7 linked regions of the Homo sapiens genome follow. The protein of the gene in region 7 purifies or fractionates together with the protein of the main gene of each other region. This does not show direct contact. Each region holds a gene or a part of one and is shown on either strand. Other genes may lie near its edges.

Region 1 (3,500 bases), on a different chromosome or scaffold from region 7:
AATAGAGCAGCCCACTCCCAGATTATCATATTTTAAATATTACTAGGTAGTTGCCTAATTTTCATTGATTGTCTCTTGACTCTCAATCTTATACATCTGGATGTTTTTAACTCTGTTATTTTCTTTGTCTTTGGAAAGAGTGTGGAAAGAAAAGTTTGAACAAGCTGAAAAAAGAAAACTTCAAGAAACAAAAGAGTTACAGGTATTATTTCAACTTTCTAAACTGATTAGAAAATAAAAGAAATATGCCAAGAAATAAATATTGCCAATATGCCAATGCATGTAAATTTAATGTTTCAAATACTTACTATATACTGACTCTGTACAAAGCAATACCGTAAGGAAAATTAATATAAAGAAATGTTAAGATCAAGACTGGTTGCTTAGAGCCAGCCCATAAACTAGTTGGAAAGTTAAAGTATGAATAAACCATCTTGTTATATTTACTTTGGTTCTACAAATATATATTAAATGTCTATGCTTTTCAGGAACAGGGGAAGCCAAGGTGATTAAACACAGTTTCATCCCTCAGAGAGCTTGTGATCCAGAGAGAGATTTACAAAACGTAAATAGAAGACTGAAATGCAATGTGATTTCAGTAGATTGAGCCATAAGCAATTGCCATTTTTGTAGGTAAAGCATGGTTGAACACTGGCAGTTTCATATGGTTGAACCTAATGTAATGAAAAGTATTTCAAGTGATTGGTAGTGGGGGAGTACTATAAGAATTCAGGAGAAGAAGGGAAAATTCCTTGCGCATGGCCAATCCAATCTCATAAAAGAGGTGGCATTTGAGATGGGCTTTGAAGTTTGGGTAAGATTTTAATAGGAAGAGAAAAGGAAGAGCACATTCTTGGAAGAGAAAATTCTCTGAAAGTAAAGGTAGAAAAGTTTGAGTTGTCTTTAGAAAGGGTACGTAGATCAGTTTTACTGGAAGCAGTTTATATGAGATCATAAGGAGATACAATTGGAAAGATATGTTATGATTAGTTTATGAAGGACTTGATTTCCAGGCCAAGGAAATTAAGTTTTATCCTGTAGGAAGTGAGAAGCTGTTAAAAAGTGACCAGGGAATTTACATTTTGAGAGCACCCTTTCGAGAGAATTAACCTGGCATAGGATATAAGATGGATTGAAAACAGAAGCTGTTGACGGTGATCAAGAGGCTGCTTCAGTAGTTTTGGTGTGAGTTGACAGGGGCCTGTGGTGAAGGCAATGAAGATGCAACAAAACAAACTGATCTATTCTAAAGACGGTCAGTCAATAAGAAGACACAATTTGGTGATGATAGATTGATGTATGAGTAGACTGAGGATGGTGAAGGACAAAGAAGGTAGGGAGGTCACAAAGGAGAGATTCTAAGGAAGGAGGAGAGAGTCTAAAAAACCTTTATGGCCGGGCACGGTGGCTCACGCCTGTAATTCCAGCACTTTGGGAGGCTGAGGCGGGTGGATCACCTGAGGTCAGGAGTTCGAGACCAGCCTGATCAACATGACGAAACCCTATCTCTACTAAAAATACAAAAATTAGCCGGGCGTGGTGGCATGCGCCTGTAGTCTCAGCTACTTGGGAGGCTGAAGCAGGAGAATCGTTTGAACCCAGGAGGCAGAGGTTGCAGTGAGCCGAGATCGTGCCACTGCACTCCAGCCTGGGTGACACAGCGAGACTCTGTCTCAAAAAAATAAAAATAAAAAAATAAATAAATAACCTTTAATTTAGTGAGACTTCATATAGAATTGTTTTAATGTTTAATATAGACCATTTGTTTTAGGTGAATTTAACAATTTCATACTGTGATTAAGATTAATTTCTTTTTCTGACTTCTACCAGAAAGCAGGAATTATGTTTCAAATGGACAATCATTTACCAAACCTTGTTAATCTGAATGAAGATCCACAACTATCTGAGATGCTGCTATATATGATAAAAGAAGGAACAACTACAGTTGGAAAGTATAAACCAAACTCAAGCCATGATATTCAGTTATCTGGGGTGCTGATTGCTGATGATCATTGGTATGTTAATCCTCTAAAAAAAAAGAAAAGGCACCTGTTCTATATCTTGATAACATGTGGTTTCCTTCATATGGCATATTCGTTGATACTGATCGTTTGGTAGAATTCTTCAAACCCATTGTTTAGTCAGGAAAAACATACATTCTGAGTGTGTTATAAGGATGATAGGTCAGTTACTCTCAATATAAAGTACAGTGTAATGCTCTCTCTGTTTTTGTTTTGGCATACTTGATCTGTTGATTGAAGAATAATTTATTTTCTTGCAATTATAATGATGCACATGCAAGTAAACTATCTATCTTACATAACAGAATTTTTGGTTGGATTGACCAATTTAAAAATGTTACTTTATGTGAATTTTGTTCATATGAATGGAATACTTGTATATATTGTTGGAATGATAGCGTATGTAAACTTTTTTGACTCTGCATTGTGTTTCCAAGATTTGTGTACATTGGTTCCTGTTTTATTTTCACTGCTATGAAGTATTCCATTGTATGAGTTTATCTCTTATAAAGTTTAGGAAGTGCTTTTAAATTGTATGTCTGAGAGTAGAGATACTAGGTTGTAGAATATGTGCATATTCAACTTTAGTAGCTAATTTCAAATTATTTTCCAAAATGAATTTTTACTCCCATTGGCCTTGAGAATACCTGTTACTCCACATCGTTGCCAATACTTAGTACTGTCAGACTTTATGCCAATCTGATGAACACTAAATAGTATATCATTATGGATTCATTTTACATTTCTTTGATTAATAATAAGGTTGAACATCTTTTCATGTGTTGATTGGCCATTTTTGTTTACTATTGTAACTTGCCTCTTCATATCTTTTGTTGATTTTTCAACTGATTTGCTTATTTCTTAATAATTTGTAGGAGTTGCCAATCTTTCGTGAGCTTTTTGGTATAAATATCTTTTTTTCTAACGTGTAACATCTTTTTACTCTCTCTGGTGCCTTTGATTGATTGAAGTTCTTAATTTTATTGTAGTACCTGGCATCAGTCTTTTCCTTTATGATTGTCAGTTTTTATGTCTTAAAGAAAGAATGTTCTGGCTGGGCGTGGTGGCTTATGCCTGTAATCCTAGCACAGGTGTGTGGGCTCAGGAGTTTGAGTCCAGCCTGGGCAACATGGTGAAACCCTGTCTCTACTAAAAATACAAAAAATTTTCTGGGCGTGGTGGTACCTGCCTGTAATCCCAGCTACTCAGGAGGCTGAGGCATGAGAATCGCTTGAACCTAGGAGGTGGATGTTGCAGTGTGCCGAGATCATCATGCCACTGTACTTCAGCCTGAGTGACAGAGCGAGACTATGTCTCAAAAAAAAAAAAAAAAAAAAAAAAAGAGAGAGAGAGAGATAGAGTGTTCTGGCCAGGTGCGGTGGCTCACGCCTATAATCCTAACAGTTTGGGAGGCTGAGGCGGCAGATTACTTGAGACCAGGAGTTCAACATCAGCCTGGCCAACATGGTGAAACCTCAT
Region 2 (4,298 bases), on a different chromosome or scaffold from region 7:
CTGGGCAGAAGACCTTTGGTCGTACCTCCATCAGTTGCTGGAGGGTGTCATTACAGGCACCCAGCTTGGTCATAGCAAAAGCCGTGGAGATACTCAGGGGTGACAGGAAAATGTTATCATTGTCATTCTTGGAATCTGCCAGGTGCTGATAGAAAGTGGTAGCAAAGCGGGAATTGGCCTTGGACAGTTCCCAGACACGCCGGTTGGTGGCCTCCGGGATCTTCTGTTCTGAGCCCTCATCCTCAGTTGCCTTCTTCTCCGGGGAGCGGTAAATGCACATGGGATTCATGGGAATGTCCCGCGGCTTGGCTGTGCAGATGTCCACAGGGCTCCCGTGACAGGTCACGCAGTCCCAGAAGCCAATGAGCAGCAAGGACAAAAGATAAACCTTCCTGCAAGGAGACAAAATGCCAAGTTAAGCTAGGCTGCAACCCCTAGCCCCACTGCCCACCACAGGGTTGCCCCAGTAAAGCAGAGGATTCCAGCCCACCTGGTGTGGCCAAGAGAAAGGCTAAATCCTTTGAACCAAGTACAGGGGCCCGGGACAGGTTCAGTCCTAGACTTCTTGCCAGGGGACAGTTCAGTTGCCTGGACGTGGTCATGTTGGAATTAGAATCATCTGATGGTTATTTGGAGTATTATGTGCTCAATTCCCCACGCTGGGAGAAAAAAGAATGAGAAGCTTCCTGTTTGTGACATGGAATGTGCATGCCTAAAAAATCGGCTTTAGTGCCCAGTGAAGAGTCAGGGTGGTAGGGGGAGCCATCTACAGAAACTGTTTGGGGAAGGACTCTGATAGATGCAGCAGAGAGATTTCAGCAACACAAGAGAAGTAAGAAGAAATGGATGGAGCAAAGGCAATATCTGGCCGGGTGCGGTGGCTCACGCCTGTAATCCCAGCACTTTGGGAGGCTGAGGCATGCAGATCACTTGAGGTTGGGTGTTCGAGATCAGCCTGGACAACATGGTGAAACCCTGTCTCTACTAAAAATACAAAAATTAGCTGGGTGTGGTGGCGCACACCTGTAGTCCCAAGCTACTAGGGAGGCTGAGGCAGAAGAATCACTTGAACCCAGGAGGCGAAGGTTGCAGTGAGCTGAGATTGTGCCACTGCACTCCAACCTGGGTGACAAAGTGAGACTGTGTCTCAAAACAGCAACAACAAACAAACAAACAAACAAAAACAATGGCAATATCTGTGTGCTGAAGATTCCTACATCTCTAGCTCCAGCCCTAACCCTTCCACTGAGCTCCAGACTGACTATTTGCTGGACAGTTCCACCAGGAACTCCTACAAGTTCTTCAGGGAAACAGGACCAAACTGAACTGGTAATTAATTCTCCCCCACAGGCCTGCTCCTGTGAGTGGGCTCAGTGAATCCCGTACAGAAACCTGAGAATCACCCTGGATTCCTCCCTCTCTCCTCCTCATTTAGTCAAACCCCAGAGTCAATCAGTTCACCCCAGAGTCAATCAGTTCTGTTTTTTTACTCTTTCACCAGTTATTGCCACTGCTTTAGTTCAGGCTCTCATCCCTTTTTATTGCCTGGAATTTTTAATAGTCGCCAACATGGATTCAATGAAGGTAAATGAAGCTAATTTCACATTTTAAAAAAATGAGGTAGTTGGGACACTCGATGAAGCAAATCAAGAGATAAAGTCTCTTGTAATATTTTTTGTAGATAAGACAGGGTGGGGCAGGGGCTGCCTCCAGCTGGTTTATGGTTCCTGCGTGTACACAAGGGGGTCTGTGTGTGGGTACTGGATCTTCCCATCTTCTCCTGGGAGAGAAAGACAGGCACCCAGTGCAGATTCACGGACGTGGTCCGTTGGGCAAGCCTGGGGCTGGCTGGAAGCTGGGGCAGCTGAGGGGGACTTGCCTTCTTGCGTGGTCTGAGTCCAGTTCTGCAGCCCTTTCAAGAACAGAGGTGCAAAGCCGGAGAGAAGCAGCGGCACCAAGGGAGATGTGGAAGGCAGGCTGAAGAAGCAGAGAGAGAGAGGAGAGGACCCTGCCATTCATCTTCCCATCTCCACTGCCTTCGGTTGCCCACTCTGTCCTTCAACTACATTTGGAAATGCAATTTGAGGCTGAGAGGACCCTGGGAGGGCTATGAAGCACAAATTAAAACCAAGACAGTTGTGCCACCACCCCGTTTCTAGCCTCCTGTGACAACTCAGATGAAGAAGGGAGTGTGTGTGGCATTGAGGGAGGGACAACTCTCATTGTGAGAAAAGGAAGCAGTTTTGGCCCTTTAGTCAAAGGTCACTGGGATTTGGGTGGGGGTGGAGTGGGGTGGATCTGAGTGGAAGAAAGAGCAAAAAGGGAGTGAGGAGGTCCTCATGGGTAGCATTTGCTCTCTTCCCGGATGGATGGCAGGCCCTGGGGATTCCCCTTGGAGCGTCCCCTGGATCCCGTGAGTGCTGACTTCCTGCACAGCATCTTTACACCAGGGATGACATCCCCCTTGTTTCTTAGGCTAGGGACCCAAGGGGTAGCTTAGGAAAGGCCTTACCCCAAGAGGTGGGGTGGGAGGGAGAGCACTTGAAATGACGTCTTCCAAACAGGTCTTTGACTGTAACTACCAGGGAGAGGGCCTGGTCTTCTCAAAGGTGTTGGAGGTCATTCCTGTGAGTCCTTTGGAGGTCACAAAACCCAGTAGGGGCAGGCAAGGGGAAAGCTCACCCCTCTTACCTTTTTCCAGAGGTTACAGTTCCTATCACATTGGAATACATGGCCGCTAATCTTCCACAGGGCTGGGCAAGTGGAGATAGTGTGATCTGAGGCAATCCGCCTGAAAACTGGTTCTTTCCTCTAAATCTCGCAGAGGTTCCAGAGGACAGGGTGGGGCAGAGAGCTGGTCAGGAGGGGGAACTGAGGTCAAAGGCTGATGACCAGTTCCCAGGGTTAAGCAAAGTGTAGAGCCCAGTGTTGTTTAATTAGTAGAGAAGTTTTAAAGTTCAATCAGGCCCAGGGAAAGCCTGAGCCACCTCTCTTGCCCACACTCCCTCACTCTTCTCCTCAGCTTTATAGAAAAGGAAAAGGAGAGTATGTTCATACCCTCAAACTTGGTTAGGAAACTAACCAAGGAAACAAACTTGGTTCATACCCACCCTCTCTCATAGTTTTCTTTATGGAGAGAGGGAGAGAGAGAGAGAAATATCTAATTAGAGAAGGCAAAGAGGGACAAGCTGCTACCTTCAGGCATCTGAGTGCCAAGGTGTCCCTGGCACAGACAAGGAAAACACAATGGTTACACCTGTGGCCCACAGAGAGACCCATTCCCCAGCAGCCCTGAAGTGGTGGGACAGGGAGAGAAGAGCAGGGCCTCGGGGTGCATGCCAAGCGCGTTTCTAAGGGGTGTGAGCAGCTGGGAAATACTTAGCAAAACTCTACTGGGGGATCAGGAGACAGAATGCGGGGCAGGTGAAAAACCCACGTACAACTGCTGAAATAAAAACAAACTAAATTATATTTATGTGTATCGTTATTTTTATTAGTTATTGGGGAGATTGGGTAAATTCAAACTAGTGGAGATAAAGGGCAGGTTTGTTTACATTTCCCTCTTCTGAAATAGCCAAAAGCACCATCACAAGGACTGCAGCCACCAAGTTCACAGGGCGCATGTGCCTCCTGCTGTGTGATCAAGGACTCCTTGTAGTTGTTGTTGCAGTCATAGGCATTTTCGAGAGCTCTTCGTTCATGAGAGAGGACATCTCTCCTGAACTGAAGCTGTGTCTAAGTTCTTGGCTGATTCAGACCCTGGATCCTTTGAAGCCCTCCATGTGCAGTGTGAACAGTAGCCGAGAACTGTCCCAAAGGGCCCCAGAATGCCCAGAGGCTCATCTGTCACCCTAGATTAAAGACTATTGAAAAGTCTCCTGTTCAACCACTTGAGTTCAACAAATACACGAGTGCTGCTTGTGCCAGCAGACACTGTTCTTGGGGCTGGGATTCCATTCGGGGGAGACATACAGCAATCACATAAAGAATCAGTATTTTAGGCCAAGCGTGGTGGCTCACACCTGTAATCCCAGCACTTTGGTAGGCTGAGGCAGGTGGATCACCTGAGGTCAGGAGTTCGAGACCGGCCTAGCCAACCTGGTGAAACCCCATCTCTACTAAAAATACAAAAAATAGCTGGGCATGGTGGTGGGCACCTGTAATTCCAGCTACTCAGGAGGCTGAGGCAGGAGAATCACTTGACCCCAGGAGGCAGAGGTTGCAGTGAGCCGAGATCGTGCTATTGCACTCCAGCCTGGGTGACAGAGCAAGACTCCATCTCAAAAAAAAAAAATCAG
Region 3 (3,500 bases), on a different chromosome or scaffold from region 7:
AAAGTTTAAGGTGCTTATTTGGATGCTGCTAGTCCTTGGGGCTTTTCCTAGAGCCTATTGGTTTGGACTCAGCCCACATAACTCTCCAACCTTAAAGATTTTGGAAGGAAACTTGATGGCTGGTAATAGCCCTGAGTGATTTTCATCCTGAAGTTTGAAGTAAGGGCATGGATGACAACCATTGGAAGAGTGGAAAGTGTGTTTGTTCTAGAGGTCTCATCCAGGTAAGGGAAATGTTAAAACTTCTGCCTAGGCGTGCTTGGGTAGATAGAAGGTTGTATCTGAAAATAAGTGCAGAGCAATTGAGCTGAGACTGGTCTCCTTTCCATCTCGCTGTTGTCGTGACCAGGGTTGTCATGGTGCTTGAGTGACCTTGTCCCTGATCTGTTGGGCTTGTGAAACATACTTGGCTTGTCACTGATTTTGGATTTCCTCTTCTGTACCCTGATGAATATCAGATAACATCTTTTGGACTGGCACGTGGTATTAAGAATGACAGGTGCAAGGGAACCAAGTCTGGCCATGTCTGATACAGAGCACGTTGGGTATGTCCATCTTCTGGGCCAGCAAAGAACACAGGAGGTCACAGAGGACACGGTGTTTTATAGCTCTTTGCTCACTCTTTCTACCGATTAACTGCCAGTCTTAACTGTTAGAAGGAAAATAGGAGAAATTGTTTATGTTGCTGCCCCTTTAAAGAAAAAAAAAATACTGGGGGTTCCTGAATAGGAACAGAATTTCAGGGACTACTTTAAGAAGTAATCTTGTCTTTTTTATGATTGGGTAAGATTACGAGACAGTCTGTGCCCTTGGTTGACTAGGTCTGTTAGCCTGTTCCAGCCATGGTCTCTCTACATTCCTTGATGCAGCTTAGCCACGAGTTTTGTCACAGTTGCCTGGACATGGGGCATCTGGGCCCCAGACTGTGTCTGGACTGCCATCTCATCTTCAGCAGCGGAAGCCCTCCTCCCCTCCTCAGCCTGTGAGGATTCAGTGTCCCAGGGAAGACTCAGTGCTGACTGGTTAGCTGGCAGAGCCTGAGTTTGACCTTATAAATAGTTCTGATGACTGCATGGGCTTGTCACTCTCACTCCAGCTTAGAGCTGGCAGGAATGAGTTCCTCGTACAATCGGGAGCATTCCTCAAACTAGGCTCCACACCCATTCACTTGTTCATTCATTCAGCAAACACACATATGTCAAGCATTAATATAATCACTGTATACGAAGCTCAGCAATTAAGAAGCACCCACAGACCTGGGTTTGAATCTTGGCTCTGGCAATTCTTGGTGACCCTGTGCAAAATCTCCCTGAACCTCAGGGTTGTTACCTGCAAAGGCGGGTAGGGTAGGGGAAGGGAAGTAGTAATAGATTATCACATAGGAATATCATAAAATTTACCTGAGATAATAGCATGTTCAAACTATGCAGCACAGAGCTTGGCAACTACTGTGTTACTGTAGAGCTTGATAAAAGTTAGCTGTAAGCAAAGTCACCTAAGTGGATCCGAGATGATTCTTGGCTTTAGAACATGGGAGCCAGGTAAATAATTATGCTACCGTGTTCTGTGCTAAAATTGAGACTTGGTCCTTCATTCATTGCAGCTGGTCTTTTGCTTGTCTCTTTTAAAGATCTGCCCCTTCTTTCTCCCCTTGAAAACGTGATAGAACCGAAGCATAGTTCCCACTTGTGCCCACTCCTAGAAAAGAAGTCTGCTAAGCTATAACATCAGTCTAGGGGAACTCATGTCGCCTTAGTTCTCTTGAGAGAGGTCTGGGGAAATGGAGCTTTTCCTCTGAGAGTTTCCCTTCTTAAGTGGTCAGGGATGCAGCCTAGCAACTTCTCCTGCTAAGATTCCTGTGACATGGGGTGAGAGGGGCTGGCCAGGGACTCTTGTAGCTGGAACAGTTTAGAATTCCAAGCCCTCCCTCCCATTGGCCTGAGAAAGGAGTCAGGCTCCAGAGCTCATAAGGTAGTAATTGCCCCAATTTGGGAGCTGGGCTGTTGTGGAGCCTTCGCAGCTACCATTTTCAATCAGGAAGCCTGTCAGCTTGCAGGCCTAATTGATGTGGGTCTCCAGCCCCGAATAGCCCCCAACCCCTAGTTCCTCCACCTCAAAGTTTGACCCCTGTTGTCTCTTTTGTTTCTTCTTTTTAAGTTGGTGCCAGTGATGTGATTTTTGGGAGCTGCGGAAAGTTGACCGTAACCAAGAGCAGCTGTTAAAAAGAGCCAATTCTCTAGCTTCCTGACGGTTGTCTGCCTCCATTTTCTGTTGTGCGTTTTTGATTTAGCAAGAAGCAAACATCCTAGGTGCCCTTGGGCGCCTCTTACGCCCATCCAAGCAGACTTCATTCTTTCACTGCTCGTAGGCATTCCCATTCTTGCTCACAGATGAGCGGACTGGCTGTTAGCGCTCCCTGACACCCTGTTTCCCCATGCGGAATAGGACTCCCCCATCATTCAGGTTCGAATGAGGGGAGGGGCGCTGTCTGGGACCCAACTGGGGATAGCCTGGCTGGGACTTGCTGCAAGCCCTGACTTGGCCTATGGGAGCTCCCCCTCACCTCTATGCACAGCTGAGGATCAGAGCGGCAAGCAGAGCCGGAAACAAAAGACTGGGAGCAAACCTCCCATCTAGCTGAGAGGCAGTGACACAGAGGTGCTGCTGCATAATTTATCACCGGAGGTTTTCTGGAGCCGGGAAGCTCCTGGCTCCAGGCAGTGCCTTTTTGCGGGAGAGGGACCCTCCCTCTGTCTGGGTGTAGGGCAGAGCAGGTACAGAGAAGGGTATCCAGAGAGACACCTGATTAGCATGTGAAATAAAGAAGCTGCAAGGTTGTAAGTGCCTCCAGGGATCTCTCCAAGCTCGGCAGCTCCACTTCCTGTCACGCCTTGGGGGAGGTGGGGAGGGGTAGTGGCCTGCAACCACGCGCTGGCATGGATGAGGACAAGAGACAGCTTCTCTGTTGAGTTGACTGTAGCCTCCTTCTAACCAAGTGGAGAGGCCAGGTTATGGCATCCACAAGCCTAGCAAATAGGAAAGGGGAGCCCCAGGTTTTCCACCCTCCTTCCACGGGCAGTTTAAACAATAAGTTTCAACTACAGGCTCCCAGAGCCAATAAAAGCCAACAACTCTACAATGTATCTTCCCCAAATGAGAATTTCTGCTCTTCTAGGAATGATCTCCTCCAATGACAATTTTTGCAAATTGTGGGATATGTGGATTTACAAATTGGGATATGTGGTTTAAAAAATCCAAATGTATTTCTGGAGCAGTTAGCATTTTTGAGAGCTTTGCTGTGTCCCTGGTACTGTGATAAGCATTTAGTATATGATATCATATTTATTCCTCACAATATCCTTATGAGGTAGGTAACATTAGATTCCCGTCTTACATTGGCCAGGTGCGATGGCTAACGCCTGTAATCCCAGCACTTTGGGAGGCTGGGGTGGGTGGATCACTTGACGTCAGGAGTTCGAGACCAACCTGGCCAACATGGT
Region 4 (3,402 bases), about 44 Mb from region 7:
ATCTTGTTATCAGGTCAGCAGCGGCCATGGGGGTTTTTCTCCATCCTCCCTATCTTCACCCCCATTTTTTGTTTGTTTGTTTGTTTTTGAGATGGAGTTTCACTCTTGTCGCCCAGGTTGGAGTGCAATGGCGTGATCTCGGCTCACTGCAACCTCCACCTCCAGTGATTCAAGTAATTCTCCTGCCTCAGCCTCCCGATTAGCTGGGATTACAGGCATGAGCCACCAGGCCCGGCCCTCACCCCCATTTTGTACACTCTCTGCCATTCATTTACCCTGACAACTTACCGTCCTTCACAATCCAATGGTACTGCTTTCCATAAGAGATGCTCCAACCTCATCCTCACCACTTCTTGCCACCCAGCTGTTCCTCTCCCCACATTTCCTGTATGACATCCAGCACCTCCATCCTCCATCCTTTGCCATCCCATAGTGCAACCAGCTCTGCCCTTCCCAGCTCCTATTCACCATGATCCTCTGTCATCTTCCACTCTGTGCCATTTCGGGGCCCTACAGCACAACTCAACTCCATCACTGTCCATAGCTCATCAATGATGACTCATCTTCTACAACCCAATGGTGCCATCATCTTTCATCGTCCACCATCCAACACCATCATCTTCCACCATCCAATAACAGTGCCACTGCTACCACCCACTGCTGGTAACTCACTACCTTCTGCCGTCCCGAGTTCCACCCAACACCATCATCTTCCATCATCCACCACCATCCCCTCTTGGTAACTCATCCTTAACCATTCAGTGATGGCATCTTCCACTGACTGTCTTCATTCCCCACTACTCAACCATTCCTCTTTGCAGTCTCCTTTCCTACCACCCAGTGGTGCCATCCAACCACATCATTCTCTGCCATCTTCCATCCTTCACAACTCAATGGTGCCATTTTCCACCATCCATCACTAACAATTCATCACTCTCCACCATCCAAGGGTACCATCTTCCACTGACATTCTCCATTCCCCATCATCTGCCTTGTTCTAATCCCATCCTCCACCATCAAAATGGTGCCATCCAAAATTGTTATCCTCTGCCACCATTTGCCATCCAATGTACCATCTTTCCCTGATGTTTTACATTTTCTAAAATCTCCTTTCCCAACCCCATCTTCCTCAATCTTGTACCACCCATTGGTTTATACCATTGACTATTGTTTACTGTCCTTTCTTAGTCCTAGTATTTCCCATTGATTTTCTCCACCCCCTGCTGGCCAAACATTTGCCCTTCTCCAATTCTGTCTTCCTCCATCCATCACTGATAAAGCATCACCCTTCACTGACCCAAACTACCACATTCCACTGACATTCTCCATCCTGTTATGCGAATGTTCTTCTCTCCAATTCCAGATTCCACCCCTCCAAGGGCACCATCTTGCACTGCTCACAGCACAATGCCCGGTGATTGCTGTTCATTCAGCAGCCTTCACCATCCTTTGGCATCATCTTGGCCAACATTCCCCATCCTCTATCATCCCCTCACTGCGTTCTCTACCATCGTCGATCTTCCACCACTAACTTTGATCCTTTGTCACCCAACAGGGCCACCTTCCACTATGAGTCTTCATCTGTTGCCACCTAATACCTGGCCTTTCTCCCTCCACCTGACACTGCAGTCCTTCATTGAGCCAACACCATCCATACTCATCTCTCCTCACCCAACGGTGCCAGTCCCCACCATCTGACTCTCCTTGTCCACCGTCTACCACCCCTCACCCTCAATCCCTCAAGTCCCTTTCAGCCCTTTAACATCATCCTCCACAGGTGGCTGCTTCCAGAGGAAAGCCCCATTCACTTCCTTGAATATCATCCCCTGGGGCCATGTTCCCTAGTGAGTGGAGACACTGCAGGGTCAGCACAGAGATAAGACCCTCTCTTCCACCTATGTGGCAGTAGAAGCAAGTGGCCAACTGGTCAGCTGACACTTCTCCTGATTCCCAATGCTTATGCCTAACCCTTGGCCTTTGTATCCATCACCAACCAGGGCAGCCCTTTCCAGATCACTAAGGCTCCAGCCCCTCCCGCCAGTCTGTCTCTTCACTCACCCGGGCATCTGTGACCTTGAACTCTCGCAGGATATACTGAGGCATGTTGTATTCTGCCATCGGATCTACCACAAAGTACTGGTAGCGGGCAGAGCGCTCGGCCGGCCAGTACTGGTGACACTTCTCCTGTGGAGGAGATGGCGGCCGTGGTCAGCGCTGTCTGAGCCACAGTCTGGCCCTCGCCCTTCCCTGCTGTGGCCCCTAGCTCACCCGGCCCATCTCCCGCAGCTTGGTCAGCATCACCACGATCGTCGAATTGTTCTCCCACAGCATGCGCCAGAAGTCTTCCGTGGTCTCCGCCAGCGGCCCCTGTGTCGCGATGTAGGCCTTCTGCTGCCTGCAGGCGTTGGGGGTATGAGCCCAGGGCCGGCAGGGAGACCCGGCGTGGTACTCACCTGATGCTGCCCGGGAGGGTCAGGACCAAGCCAGTGACAGCTACACCTACCACCCCACTGCCTGCCAGGAATGGCTGCTGGGTGCACCACTTCCCCTCCTGGTGATCCCATTTTGCATGTGGGGAAACCACCAGTCTCATGACAAATTCAAATCCCTTGACAAAGCTGCGGGACTATCCACTAACCTCTCCTGATTTCTTCCCTCCATCTCCTTCAAGGGCCACTGCCCTACTTTCAGTTGCTTGCGTGGGCCAAGCTCTCAGCCCCGGGCCTTTGCACATGTGGCACCCTCTGCCAGGAACACCCTCCCCTCCTTTGCCAGGATTTCTCAATCTCAGTGCTATTGACATTTGGCGCTGGATTGTTCTCTGAGACAAGCTGTTCTGTGTACTGTAGGATGCTGAGCAGCATGCCTGGTCCCCACCCAGGCAGTACCAGTAGTACTCATGAAAATAAGAAATATCCTCAGGGTGTCAGAATTACCCCAATTGAGAACCACTGATAGAACAGATGGAATCACATTATGGACAGCAGCCATCAGTTAAACACACACCCAAAGATTCACGGACAGCAGCCATCAGTTAAATATACATCTAAAGATGTGTATTTAAACAGCTCAGGGCTACCAGTATCTCCCCAGCTCTGTCTCCCACAAGACTGGAGGCCTCTTGAGAGTAGAGATGGGCTCCTTCTGGGGCCCTGAGGTGGGAAAGGCATGGCACCTACCTGTAGCCATCAATGAAGCTGGCGTTGATGTAGTCAGAGCCCTCCACACCCCGGATGGGTTGCAGACAGACCCGTGTGCTCTCATAGGGCATGATGTTCACCAGGCGGTTCTTGAACTTGTTACAAGGCAGATTGGCACTGATGAAGCGTGACGTGTGGGCCTTGGAGTTAGCCAGCCGCTGTGGGGAGGAGGAAGCCAGAGGCCACCATCAGGATGAGGAAG
Region 5 (3,500 bases), on a different chromosome or scaffold from region 7:
ATATGTACAAAACATATGTGTACGTTCATTATATACAGAATATGTGTATTCTATAGAATATACATATACACAAAAATAGTGACCACTTATCACTCTTCTTTTTTATTTGAAGCACAGTGTAGTTAAGAGAACAGGCTTTGGAGTCAGGAAGGCTCCAGTGCTGTCATTTAACAGTGATGCAATTTTTGGCGAGTAACTAACCCTAAGCCTCAGTTTCCCATCTAGGAAATGGAGATAATTATATACCTACCTCACAGGGTTGTGAGGTTCACACACCATCATACATTTCGAGCACTCAGCTCAGTGCTTGGCACATTGTTAAGTGCTCTGTGACTATTAGCTATTATTATTACTTTCCTGTTTTTTTCTATTGAGTCTTTAATTTTTTCTTATCCCTGTACAAATCTGAAAAAGGATACTAACTTTCCTCTGACATACGTAGAAAACATTTTTCCAGTTTGTCAACTGCTTGTATTTTTATTATAATTTTTGGCATAAAGAAATTAAATATTTTATAAGCTTAAAATTACTTTTTTTTTCTTCGAGATGGAGTTTTGCTCTAGTCACCCAGGCTGGAGTGCAATGGTGTGATCTCAGCTCACTGCAACCTCTGCCTCCCAAGTTCAAGCAATTCTCCTACCTCAGCTTCCCAAGTAGCTGGGATTATAGGCATGTGCCACCACGCCCAGCTAATTTTGTATTTTTAGTAGAGATGGGATTTCACTATGTTGGCCAGGCTGGTTTCAAACTCCTGATCTCAAGTGATCCACCTGCCTCAGCCTCTCAAAGTGTTGGGATTACAGGCATGAGCCACCACACCCAGCAAAATTACTTCTTTTAAAATGTTTTTATGTGTTTTTCTTTACTTTATGATTAGAAAATACTTTCTGCCCTTGAGATACATGCACCTTTCTTCCTTCTATTCTTTTTTTTTAATGTAAATTCTTTTTTTAAAATTATTTTTATTTTTTGGACACAGGGTCTCGCTTTGTACCTCAGGCTGGAGTGCAGCAGCACAATCTCAGCTCACTGCAGCCTTGACCTCCTGGGCTCAATCGATCCTCCTGCTTCAGCCTCCCAGGTAGCTGGGACTACTGGTGTACCCCACCACGCCTGGTTAATTTTTCTGTTTTTTGTAGAGACAGGGTTTTGCCATGTTTCCCAGGCTGGTCTTGAACTCCTGGGCTCAAGCAATCCACCTGCCTCAGCCTCCCAAAGTGCTGGGATTACAGGTGTGAGCCAGCACGCCTGGCCCCTTCTATTCTTTAGCTTAATTTTTTACATTTAAGTCCAATCTAGCTGTAATTTATTTTTGTGTGTGGTGTAAGATAAGGATCTAATTTCATTTTCTCCATATAGATCATCTATTGTCATGGCGGCATCCATTGATAAATCTGTCCTCTTATCATTTTAAAGAAATGATATTTTGTTGCTGTTGTTGTTTTGAGATGGAGTCTCACTCTGTTGCCCAGGCTGGAGTGCAGTGGTGTGATCTCTGCTTACTGCAACCTCTGCCTCCGAGGTTCAAGTGATCCTCCTGCCTCAGACTCCCTGGTAACTGGGATTACAGGCGTGCCACCATGCCCAGCTAATTTTTGTAATTTTAGTAGAGGTGGGTTTTACCGTGTTGCCCAGGCTGACTGAACTCCTGACCTCAAGTGATCACCCACCTTAGCCTCCCAAAGTATTGTGATTACAGGTGTGAGCCGCTGTGCCTGGCCAAGGAATGATTTAAACAAACTTTTACATTGTACCAGACAATTATTGGGTCTTTTTCTGGCCTTTCCCTTTTGTTGAGACTATTGAGCGTCTAGTGTGAGGTAAGCAGTCACGCAGAGAGCATTGGCCTCAGGACCACAGTGGAGGGCCCTGAAGCCTTGATGAGCTCGATTTGTTGTCCTCCCCCCTCCCCAGGGGATTCGTTTCCCTTTCTTTTTCTTTCAGTTCATGTCTCTTCCTCTCCCATTTCCTTCCCTAGGTCTCATAAGAATAAAAATAGCTCTCATTCATTGAATACCGGCTATGCATAGGCCTTTGCCTCGATTGTCTCTAGTCCTCACCACAGCTGCATACAGCTTGGCTGTGAGGTGGAGATACCAATCACCCTACCCAGGATGGGCAGAAGGCTAGGGAGGTGCAGGGAGGAGGCCAGGAGGCAGAGGAGGTGCAGGGAGGAGGCCAGGAGGCCAGGCAGGTGCAGGGAGGAGAGTTGCTTCAGTCCTGTCCCTCATTGCTCCTCTCTTGACCTGTCCCCTCGCCTTACGTTTCCTCAGGTCAATCTCTTCTCTGTACTACCTGACCATGATCCTGTGAAAAAACTGGAGTTGCCCATCTTCTTCTCAAACAAACTAGCAAACAAACCCCTTCTCAAACCCCAAAGCCCACAGGTTAAAGGCTGAACTTATTAGCATGGCAGAAAATGCTCTTGATAGTCCGGCCCCAGCCTTCCCCAGCCTCTTCTCCTTCCTTGCTCCAGCATGCATCTGATTAGCTCATCATCAGCTTGTTCTCTTCCTTGCTTGGCAGAGTTGAACTGAGGCATGGGGAAGTAGGGTGCTTTGCCCAAGGACACATTGCTTGGATGTAATGGAGCTGGATCTAGAGTCAGTGTCTTCTCACTGACAACAGCCTGGCCTATTCCCTAAGCCTGTGATGCACTTGTTCCTCTTGTCCCATCTGCTGGGAAGCTCTTCTCCATCCTGATGTGCTAGTGGATATGTATTCGTCCTTGAGTACCTAGCTCAAGAGGACTAGCTTCAAGAGGCTTTTGCCAGCTCTGACCAATGAGCAGGACCAGTGCACGTGGTTATGCTGGTGGTGCCCTGTCCGGGGCTCCTGACCGAGCATGGGAGTTGGAGCTGAAGTCCAGCATACACCCTGCCAACCAGGCCATGGGCTGGGTGGGAGGAGCACCTTTTTCTAATTCATTTGCCCAGAGGGGACATCTCCGTGTACTGGCAGTGGCCCTGAAATCAGGCTAGTGACCCCTGCTTCTGTTTTCTTGCAGCACCTTGATGGCATATGATTAGGACATGACAGAAGAGAAAGTGGCTAAGGTGGCAGGCTGACAGCGAATAGTCAGGCTGGTGTAGGAGGCAGCCCAGGGGACAGTGGCGTGCCCTACCCCCCTATTCTTGTCTGCTCTTGTGCCCCGGAGCCACAGGCTTCTGTCTAGGGGTTCTTGGGGAGAAGGAGGTGGATCACCTCTTGGGGGTTGGAGGAGTCAAAAGAACCTTGAGAGGGCATGCCTGGGTTGGGAGTCCTGCAGAGTCCAGATTGACTGTGCCAAGTGCTATCCTAACATGGCCATTAGGGACATTGAACTCCATGCAGCAGTAGCAGGGACTGCTGAAAACCATGCTGCAGACAGGCCAATCTCAGATCAAGTACAAGTACATCAATCAATGTATTCAACACCCAGTATGTGCCCAGCACTATGTTAGGGGTTGTGGGTTCTCATTTAACGTCCACTGAAAAATGTAAGTATATATTCTTACTTC
Region 6 (3,500 bases), on a different chromosome or scaffold from region 7:
CAGCAGAACAGCAAAATGTGACCCAGGTGGCACATTCTCCACAAGGTTACAACACAGCAAGGGAGAAGCCAACCCGAGAGGTGCAGGAGGTAAGGGGCGTGAACTGGTAATCTATGGTTAGGTCACTTTCTCTGTCAAGTTGCCAAGAGGGGACCTGCTTTTAATATTGCCAACTTTTCTGGGAGAGCAGTAGTTCTCAAATTTTAGTATATCAGAATTGCCAGTAGGGCGTGATAAAACACAGATTACTGGGTCCCAGGCCCAGAGTTTCTGATTTAGTTAATTTGGAGTGAGGCCTAAAGATTTGCATTTCTAACTGATTTAGCTGGTCTGAGTAGCAAACTTTGAGAACTGCTGCTAGTATTTTCTTTCTTTTTTTCTCTGAGACAGTGTCATGCTACGTCGTCCAGGCTGGAGTGCAGTGGCACAATCTTAGCTCACTGCAACCTCCGCTTCCCGGGTTCAAGCAATTCTCCCTGCCTCAGCCTCCCGAGTAGCTGGGATTATAGGCGCCCGCCACCACGCCTGGCTAATTTTTGTATTTTCAGTAGAGACAGGGTTTCGCTATGTTGGCCAGGCTGGTCTTGAACTCCTGACCTCAGGTGATCCGCCCGCCTTGGCTTCCCAAAGTGCTGGGATTATAGGCGTGAGCCACCACACCTGGCCGCTGCTAGTATGTCTGAGAAAGGCTTTAATGGCTTTGTCTTTATTCATGTAGGTTTATTTGTCTTCAAGGAGTTGTAGTATCTGAGTTTTTCAAGGTTGGGGATTTTGCGGGGGTTAGGGTGAGAACGTTAAATGATCATGAGGATTTTATGTGACAGTCAACCCACTCAAATATTAAAGTTAATAATATATTTTAACTTGGAGCAGTGCTAGGTCTACACAGAGCATGTCAAAATTTGAATTAAATGACCTGTTTGACACTCCTACGGGTATGAGTGCTAGTCAAATAATACACCTTTTTATATTCTTGTTCTTTATAAAAATTAAGCCTTAAGAATATCTCATAAGTGAGACATCAGAAGTAGTTACCATTACCACTAATTTCTACAAAGGTTGTTTTTTTTTTTTCCAATCATCTGTAATAAAAAAATAGGCAATATGGTTATCTTTCTGACAAAGTGGTTGTTTTAAACTTTTAAGTTCAGGGGTACATGAGCAAGTTTGTTACGTAGGTAAACTGTGTCATGGGAGTTTGTTGTAAAGATTATCTTATCACCCAGCTATTTAGCCTAGTACCCATTAGCTATATTCCTGCTCCTCTCCCTCCACCTTCTGATAGGCCGTACAGTGTGTTGTTCCCCTCTATGTGCTTATGTGTCTCATCATTTAGCTCCCACTTATAAGTGAGAACATGTAGTATTTGACTTTCTGTTCCTGTGTTGGTTTGCTACAGATGATGGCCCCCAGCTCCATCCATGCCCCTGCAAAGGACATGATCTTGTTCTTTTTTTATGACTGCATAGTATTCCATGGTGTTTATGTATCACATTTTTCTTTATCAAAGTCTATAATTGGTGGGCATTTAGGTTGATTCCATGTCTTTGCTATTGTGAATAGTGTTGCAGTGAATGTGTCTTTATAATGGAATGATTTCTATTCCTCTGGGCATATACCCAGTAATGGGATTTTGCTGAGTCAAATGGTATTTATATCTTTAGGTCTTGGAGCAGTCTCCACACTGTCTTTCATGATGGTTGAACTAATCTGCACTCCCACCAACAGTGTATAACCATTCCTTTTTCTTCACAACCTCGCCAGAATCTGTTATTTTTGACTTTTTAATAATAGCTCTTCTGACTGGTGTGAGATAATATCTCATTGTGGTTTTGATTTGCATTTCTCTAATGATCAGTGATGCTGAGTTGTTTTTTTTTTTTTTTTGTATGATTGTTGGCCACATATATGTTTGTGTTAGTCCGTTTTCATGCTGCTCATAAAGACATACCCTAGACTGGTTGATTTAAAAAAGAAAGAAGTTTAATTGGACTTACAATTCCACATGGCTGGGGAAGCCTCACAATCATGGTGGAAGGCCAGGAGGAGCAAGTCCCATCTTCCATGGATGGCAGCAGGCAGAGAGAGAGAGCTTGTGCAGGGTAACTCCTCTTTTTAAAACGATCAGATCTTGTGAAACTTGTTCACTATTGTGAGAGCAGCACGGGAAAGACTTGACCCCATGATTGAGTTACCTCTAACCGGGTTCTTCCCACAACACGTGGGAATTCAAGATGAGATTTTGGTGGGGACACAGCCAAACCATATCAGTGTCTTCTTTTGATGTGTGTGTTCATGTCCTTTGCTCACAAAGTGGTTTTTAACATTAAAGAGAAGACTGAGAAAACTTTCCTCCAAGTTATGGGAATAATTAAGTTGATATGAGTAGACTTCATATATGAGCCTCTTCACTCTGTTCAGGGTATTCCTTCAACAGACAGGTTCAGTATCTTCATGGACTCTTATTCTTTCTCAGGCTCTTATGTTAATAACTAAAGAGAGCATGACCAGATCACTGGCCTGGCAGTTGGTTCTATTTTCTGCCCTTGTCAGACTGCCAGTTTACTGGATTAATCTTCCAGTGACTCAGATCTTCAGTTTTTCCATCTCTGAGGTGGAGATAGGAGTTATCTGCACTAACCTTCCTCACTAGGATATTGTGAAGATAAATGACAAGTGTTTGAAAGTACTTAGAGCTCTTTAGAGAAATATTTTTCTGTAAAGCCAGGGCAGTATTATGTCAAACTTGCCAGATATGTGAGGATGTCGGTGGAATGTGCAACTCCAGTTGTCCTCAAATGTCTGAGAAAGGACTTTTCTCCCCAGTTTATTAATACAGTCCAATTTCTCAGATTTGATAATTATATCTCTGCTAATTTAAGAATAGGATTTCACATTTATTTCAATTTTGGGAGAGCAGTCTAACCAAAGAAGATTTTTTTTTCTGAAGGTTAAAGAGAAAAAAAGAGTGACGTTTGTTTCTGTTGATATACTATATTCTCTTTCTTCCTCACTTTCTAGGTAGTGCAGATCATATAGAGATCGCTGAAACTTATAGGGAGAACTGATTTGAGTCAACTAATTTTAGAGGAGGGTTATTCTGAAAAAGCCATTTCTTCTTTTTCTGCTCAGGGTTTTCAATATTAGCAATAAAAAATGTTTACAAAAGAGTCCTGCTGGTTTACAAATAATTACTACTTTAATACATTAAAAATATTTTATTGTATCTTGTTTAACAGGCACTGTGTTGAACTAACATGGATGTTCATTAGTAATGGCATTCTTTTTTTTTTTTTTTTTTTTTTTTTTTTTTTTTTTGAGACGGAGTCTTGCTCTGTCGCCCAGGCTGGAGTGCAGTGGCGCAATCTCGGCTCACTGCAAGCTCCGCCTCCCGGGTTCACGCCATTCTCCTGCCTCAGCCTCCCGCGTAGCTGGGACTACAGGCGCCCGCCACCACGCCCGGCTAATTTTTTGTGTTTTTTTAGTAGAGACGGGGTTTC
Region 7 (3,500 bases):
TGGTAAAAAATTGGAATCCGGCCGGGCGCGGTGGCTCAAGCCTGTAATCCCAGTACTTTGGGAGGCTGAGGCAGGCGGATCAGGAGGTCAGGAGATCGAGACCATCCTGCCTAACACAGTGAAACTCTGTCTCTACTAAAAATACAAAAAATTAGCCGGGCGTGGTGGTGGGCGCCTGTAGTCCCAGCCACTCGGGAGGCTGAGGCAGGAGAATTGGTGCAACTTGGGAGGTGGAGGTTGCAATGAGCTGAGATCGCGCCACTGCACCCCAGCCTGGGTGACAGAGCGAGACTCCGTCTCCAAAAAAAAGAAAAAAACAAAAATACGGCCGAGCGCGGTGGCTCACGCCTGTAATCCCAGCACTTTGGGAGGCCGAGGTGGGTGGATCACCTGGGGTCGGGAGTTCGAAACCAGCCTGGCCAACATGGTGAAACTCTGTCTCTACTAAAGATACAAAAAATTAGCAGGGCGTGGTGGCTTGCGCCTGTAATCCCAGCTACTTGGGACGCTGAGGCAGGAGAATTGCTTGAACCCGGGAGGCAGAAGTTGCAGTGAGCCGAGTTCGTGCCTCTGCACTCCAGTCTGGGCGACAGAGTAAGACTTTGTCTCAAAAAACAAACAAACAAAAATAGCTAGGCCTGATGGCGTGCACCTGTGGTCCTACCTACTGGGGAGGCTGAAGTGGGAGAATTACTTGAGCCCAGGAAGTTCAGACTGCAGTGAGCTATGATTGCACCACTGGACTCCAGTCTGGTGACAGAGCAAGACCCTGTCTCAAAAAGGAAAAAAAAAAAAAAAAAGAAAGAAAGAAAAATTCAACAATCAGAAAAAGACACTGAAAAGACAACAAAATGTGTGGACCTTGCTGGATGCTGATTCAAACTTTAAAAAACATTTACAGTCAGGAATATGGGAACAAAAACTGGACATCTGATGCCATTAAAGAGTTAATTGGTTGTAGGTGTGATGATGGTTTTGGTATTAATTTTTTTTAAATGCCCTTACCTAGTAGAGTTACATACTAAAGGACTTATCAACAAAACAGTCTGGCTGGGCACGGTGACTCCCGCACTTTGGGAGGCTGAGGAGGGCAGATCACTTGAGGTGGAGGGTTCGAGACCAGCCTGGCCAACATAGTGAAATCCCGTCTCTACTAAAAATACAAAAATTGGCCAGGCGCGGTGGCTTATGCCTGTAATCCCAGCACTTTGGGAGGCCAAGGTGGGTGGATCACGAGGTCAGGAGTTCAAGACCAGCCTGGCCAATATGGTGAAACCTCATCTCTACTAAAAATACAAAAATTGGCTGGGCGAGGTGGCGGGCACCTGTAATCCCAGCTACTCAGGAGGCTGAGGCAGGAGAATTGTTTGAACCTGGGAGGCGAAGCTTGCAGTGAGCCGAGACTGAGCCACTACACTCCCGCATGACAGAGTGAGACTCCATCTCAAAATACAAACAAACAAAGAAAAAAACACTGTGATGTCTGAGATTTACCAAAGCTTGATGTGAAGTGGGGTGGGGAAGTGAGTGAGGATGTGCGTGAAATTCAAAAAACCATGGGTTGATAATTATTAAGTCTCAGTGATGGGATGCTCGCTTCCTTCCTTCCTTCCTTCCTTTCCTTCCTCTTTCTCTCTCCCTCTCCTCTCTCTTTCTTTCCTTCTTTCTTTGAGACAGAGTCTTGCTTTGTTGCCCAGGCTGGAGTGCAGTGGCTTGATCTCGGCTCACTGCAACCTCTGCTTCCCGGGATCAAGTGATTCTCCTGCCTCAGCCTCCCGAATAGCTGGAATTACAAGCACCCACCACCGCACCCGGCTAATTTTTGTATGTTTAGTAGAGATGGGGTTTCACTCTGTTGGCCAGGCTTATCTCAAACTCCTGACCTTAAGTGATCTGCCCACCTCGGCCTCCCAAAGTGTTGGAATTACAGGCGTGAGCCACTGCACCTGGCCACCATATTTTTTTTCTTTTTGAGACAGGGTCTGGCTCTGTCATCTGGGCTGGAGTGCAGAGTTGCAATCAGTTCACTACAGCCTCAAACTCCTGAGCTCAAGCGATCCTCCTGCCATAGCCTCCCCAGTGGCTGGGACTAGAGGCACATACCACCATGCCAGGCTAATTTTTTGAGTTTTTAGTAGAGATGCGGTCTTACTATGTTGCCCAGGCTGGTCTTGAACTCCTGGGATCAAGCAATCCACCTGCCTCGGCCTCCCAAAGTTCTGGGATTATAGGCGTGAGCCACCGTGTCTGGTCCGTTTTATACTATTGTTTCTACTTAAGTGTGGTTTGAAACTTTCCCTCCTTAAGCCAGGAGTGGTGGCTCATGCCTGTAATCCCAGCACTTTGGGAGGCCAAGGTAGGCAGATCACGAGATCAGGAGTTCGAGACCAGCCTGGCCAGCATGGTGAAGCCCCCGTCTCTACTAAAAATACAAAAATTAGCCAGGCATGGTGGTGTGTGCCTGTAATCCCAGCTACTCGGGAGGCTGAGGTAGGAGAATTGCTTGAACCTGGGAGGCGGAGGTTGCAGTGAGCCAAGATTGCGCCACAGTACTGCAGTCTGGGCGACAGTGCAAGAGTCTGTCTCAAAAACAACAACAACAACAACAAAGGCCAGGAGCAGTGGCTCACGTCTGTAATTCCAGCACTTTGGGAGGCCGAGGCAGGCAGATCACGAGGTCAAAAGATCGAGACCATCCCGGCCAACATGGTAAAACCCTGTCTTTACTAAAAAAAAAAAAACAAACAAAAATTAGCCAGGCGTGGTGGTGCACGCCTGTAGTCCCAGCTACTCGGGAGGCTGAGGCAGGAGAATCACTTGAACCTGGGAGGCGGAGGTTGCAGTGAGCCGAGATCGCGCCATTGCACTCCAGCCTGGGCGACAAGAGCGAAACTCTGTCTCAAAAAAAGAAAGAAATTTTCCCTACTTAGGAAAGAAAGAAGACAATTAAAGAAAAACTACCTGGTTGAGTCTCAACTTCTCCTTTGTGGCACTTGGAATGAATATCTGTGCACATCCCCAGCTGGTATCTATCTTTGTCCAGCAGCCTGGGAGCCACAGAGGGTGAATGTGTGTCACTTCCCTCTTTGCTCAAGGCCCAGAGCAGCGCCTGGCAGTGCAAATGCTCTTGGCCAACAGTTGAATGAGTGGGGATCTGGGGGCCTCCGGGGAGGAAACAGTGAACTCTGCCCTACAGAGCTGAGGAAAGGCTTCTCAGAGGAAGTGATATCCAGCCCTGACCTTGAAGAATAAGGAGGGCTGGAGTATATGCAGAGAGGGGGAAGGGTGGAACAGAGAGGTGCCAGGGGAAACTGGATGAGCAAATGCCCAGAGGGAGGAGATTGCTTATGTTGGGTGGCTGGAGCGTAGACTCTGATGGCTGCGTAGAGACAAGTGCTGCTGCGTGGGTCTGATGAGGACATTAAGGCAAGGAAGGCCAAGCACAGTGGCTCACACCTGTCATCCCAGCACCCTGGGAGGCCAAAGTGAGAGAATCACTT

What was found.
Region 1: the proteins of FCGRT (region 7) and KIF14 purify together in Homo sapiens (affinity purification with mass spectrometry; 2 studies listed by BioGRID and IntAct, with this or other methods). This does not show direct contact.
Region 2: the proteins of FCGRT (region 7) and SERPINC1 purify together in Homo sapiens (affinity purification with mass spectrometry; 2 studies listed by BioGRID and IntAct, with this or other methods). This does not show direct contact.
Region 3: the proteins of FCGRT (region 7) and LRP4 purify together in Homo sapiens (affinity purification with mass spectrometry; 2 studies listed by BioGRID and IntAct, with this or other methods). This does not show direct contact.
Region 4: the proteins of FCGRT (region 7) and PTPRS purify together in Homo sapiens (affinity purification with mass spectrometry; 2 studies listed by BioGRID and IntAct, with this or other methods). This does not show direct contact.
Region 5: the proteins of FCGRT (region 7) and PODXL2 purify together in Homo sapiens (affinity purification with mass spectrometry; 2 studies listed by BioGRID and IntAct, with this or other methods). This does not show direct contact.
Region 6: the proteins of FCGRT (region 7) and GOLIM4 purify together in Homo sapiens (affinity purification with mass spectrometry; 2 studies listed by BioGRID and IntAct, with this or other methods). This does not show direct contact.

Annotation. Positions count from the first base shown.
Region 1 is NC_000001.11:200,596,752-200,600,251, reverse strand, and holds part of KIF14 (kinesin-like protein KIF14), read left to right. Parts: intron 1-138; coding exon 139-202; intron 203-1,830; coding exon 1,831-2,015; intron 2,016-3,500. UniProt on the Homo sapiens protein: Microtubule motor protein that binds to microtubules with high affinity through each tubulin heterodimer and has an ATPase activity. Plays a role in many processes like cell division, cytokinesis and also in cell proliferation and apoptosis.
Region 2 is NC_000001.11:173,914,528-173,918,825, forward strand, and holds the start of SERPINC1 (antithrombin-III isoform 1 precursor), read right to left. Parts: upstream 2,801-4,298; 5' UTR 2,733-2,800; coding exon 2,692-2,732; intron 2,414-2,691; exon of another isoform or gene 1,978-2,413; coding exon of another isoform or gene 1,880-1,977; intron 660-1,879; exon of another isoform or gene 491-659; intron 393-490; coding exon 26-392; intron 1-25. UniProt on the Homo sapiens protein: Most important serine protease inhibitor in plasma that regulates the blood coagulation cascade. AT-III inhibits thrombin, matriptase-3/TMPRSS7, as well as factors IXa, Xa and XIa. Its inhibitory activity is greatly enhanced in the presence of heparin.
Region 3 is NC_000011.10:46,912,051-46,915,550, reverse strand, and holds part of LRP4 (low-density lipoprotein receptor-related protein 4 precursor), read left to right. Parts: intron 1-3,500. UniProt on the Homo sapiens protein: Mediates SOST-dependent inhibition of bone formation. Functions as a specific facilitator of SOST-mediated inhibition of Wnt signaling.
Region 4 is NC_000019.10:5,208,411-5,211,812, forward strand, and holds part of PTPRS (receptor-type tyrosine-protein phosphatase S isoform 1 precursor), read right to left. Parts: intron 3,359-3,402; coding exon 3,180-3,358; intron 2,396-3,179; coding exon 2,269-2,395; intron 2,185-2,268; coding exon 2,059-2,184; intron 1-2,058. UniProt on the Homo sapiens protein: Cell surface receptor that binds to glycosaminoglycans, including chondroitin sulfate proteoglycans and heparan sulfate proteoglycan.
Region 5 is NC_000003.12:127,642,685-127,646,184, forward strand, and holds part of PODXL2 (podocalyxin-like protein 2 precursor), read left to right. Parts: intron 1-3,500. UniProt on the Homo sapiens protein: Acts as a ligand for vascular selectins. Mediates rapid rolling of leukocytes over vascular surfaces through high affinity divalent cation-dependent interactions with E-, P- and L-selectins.
Region 6 is NC_000003.12:168,033,425-168,036,924, reverse strand, and holds part of GOLIM4 (Golgi integral membrane protein 4), read left to right. Parts: coding exon 1-89; intron 90-3,500. UniProt on the Homo sapiens protein: Plays a role in endosome to Golgi protein trafficking; mediates protein transport along the late endosome-bypass pathway from the early endosome to the Golgi.
Region 7 is NC_000019.10:49,515,661-49,519,160, reverse strand, and holds part of FCGRT (IgG receptor FcRn large subunit p51 isoform 1 precursor), read right to left. Parts: intron 3,048-3,500; coding exon of another isoform or gene 2,962-3,047; intron 1-2,961. UniProt on the Homo sapiens protein: Cell surface receptor that transfers passive humoral immunity from the mother to the newborn. Binds to the Fc region of monomeric immunoglobulin gamma and mediates its selective uptake from milk.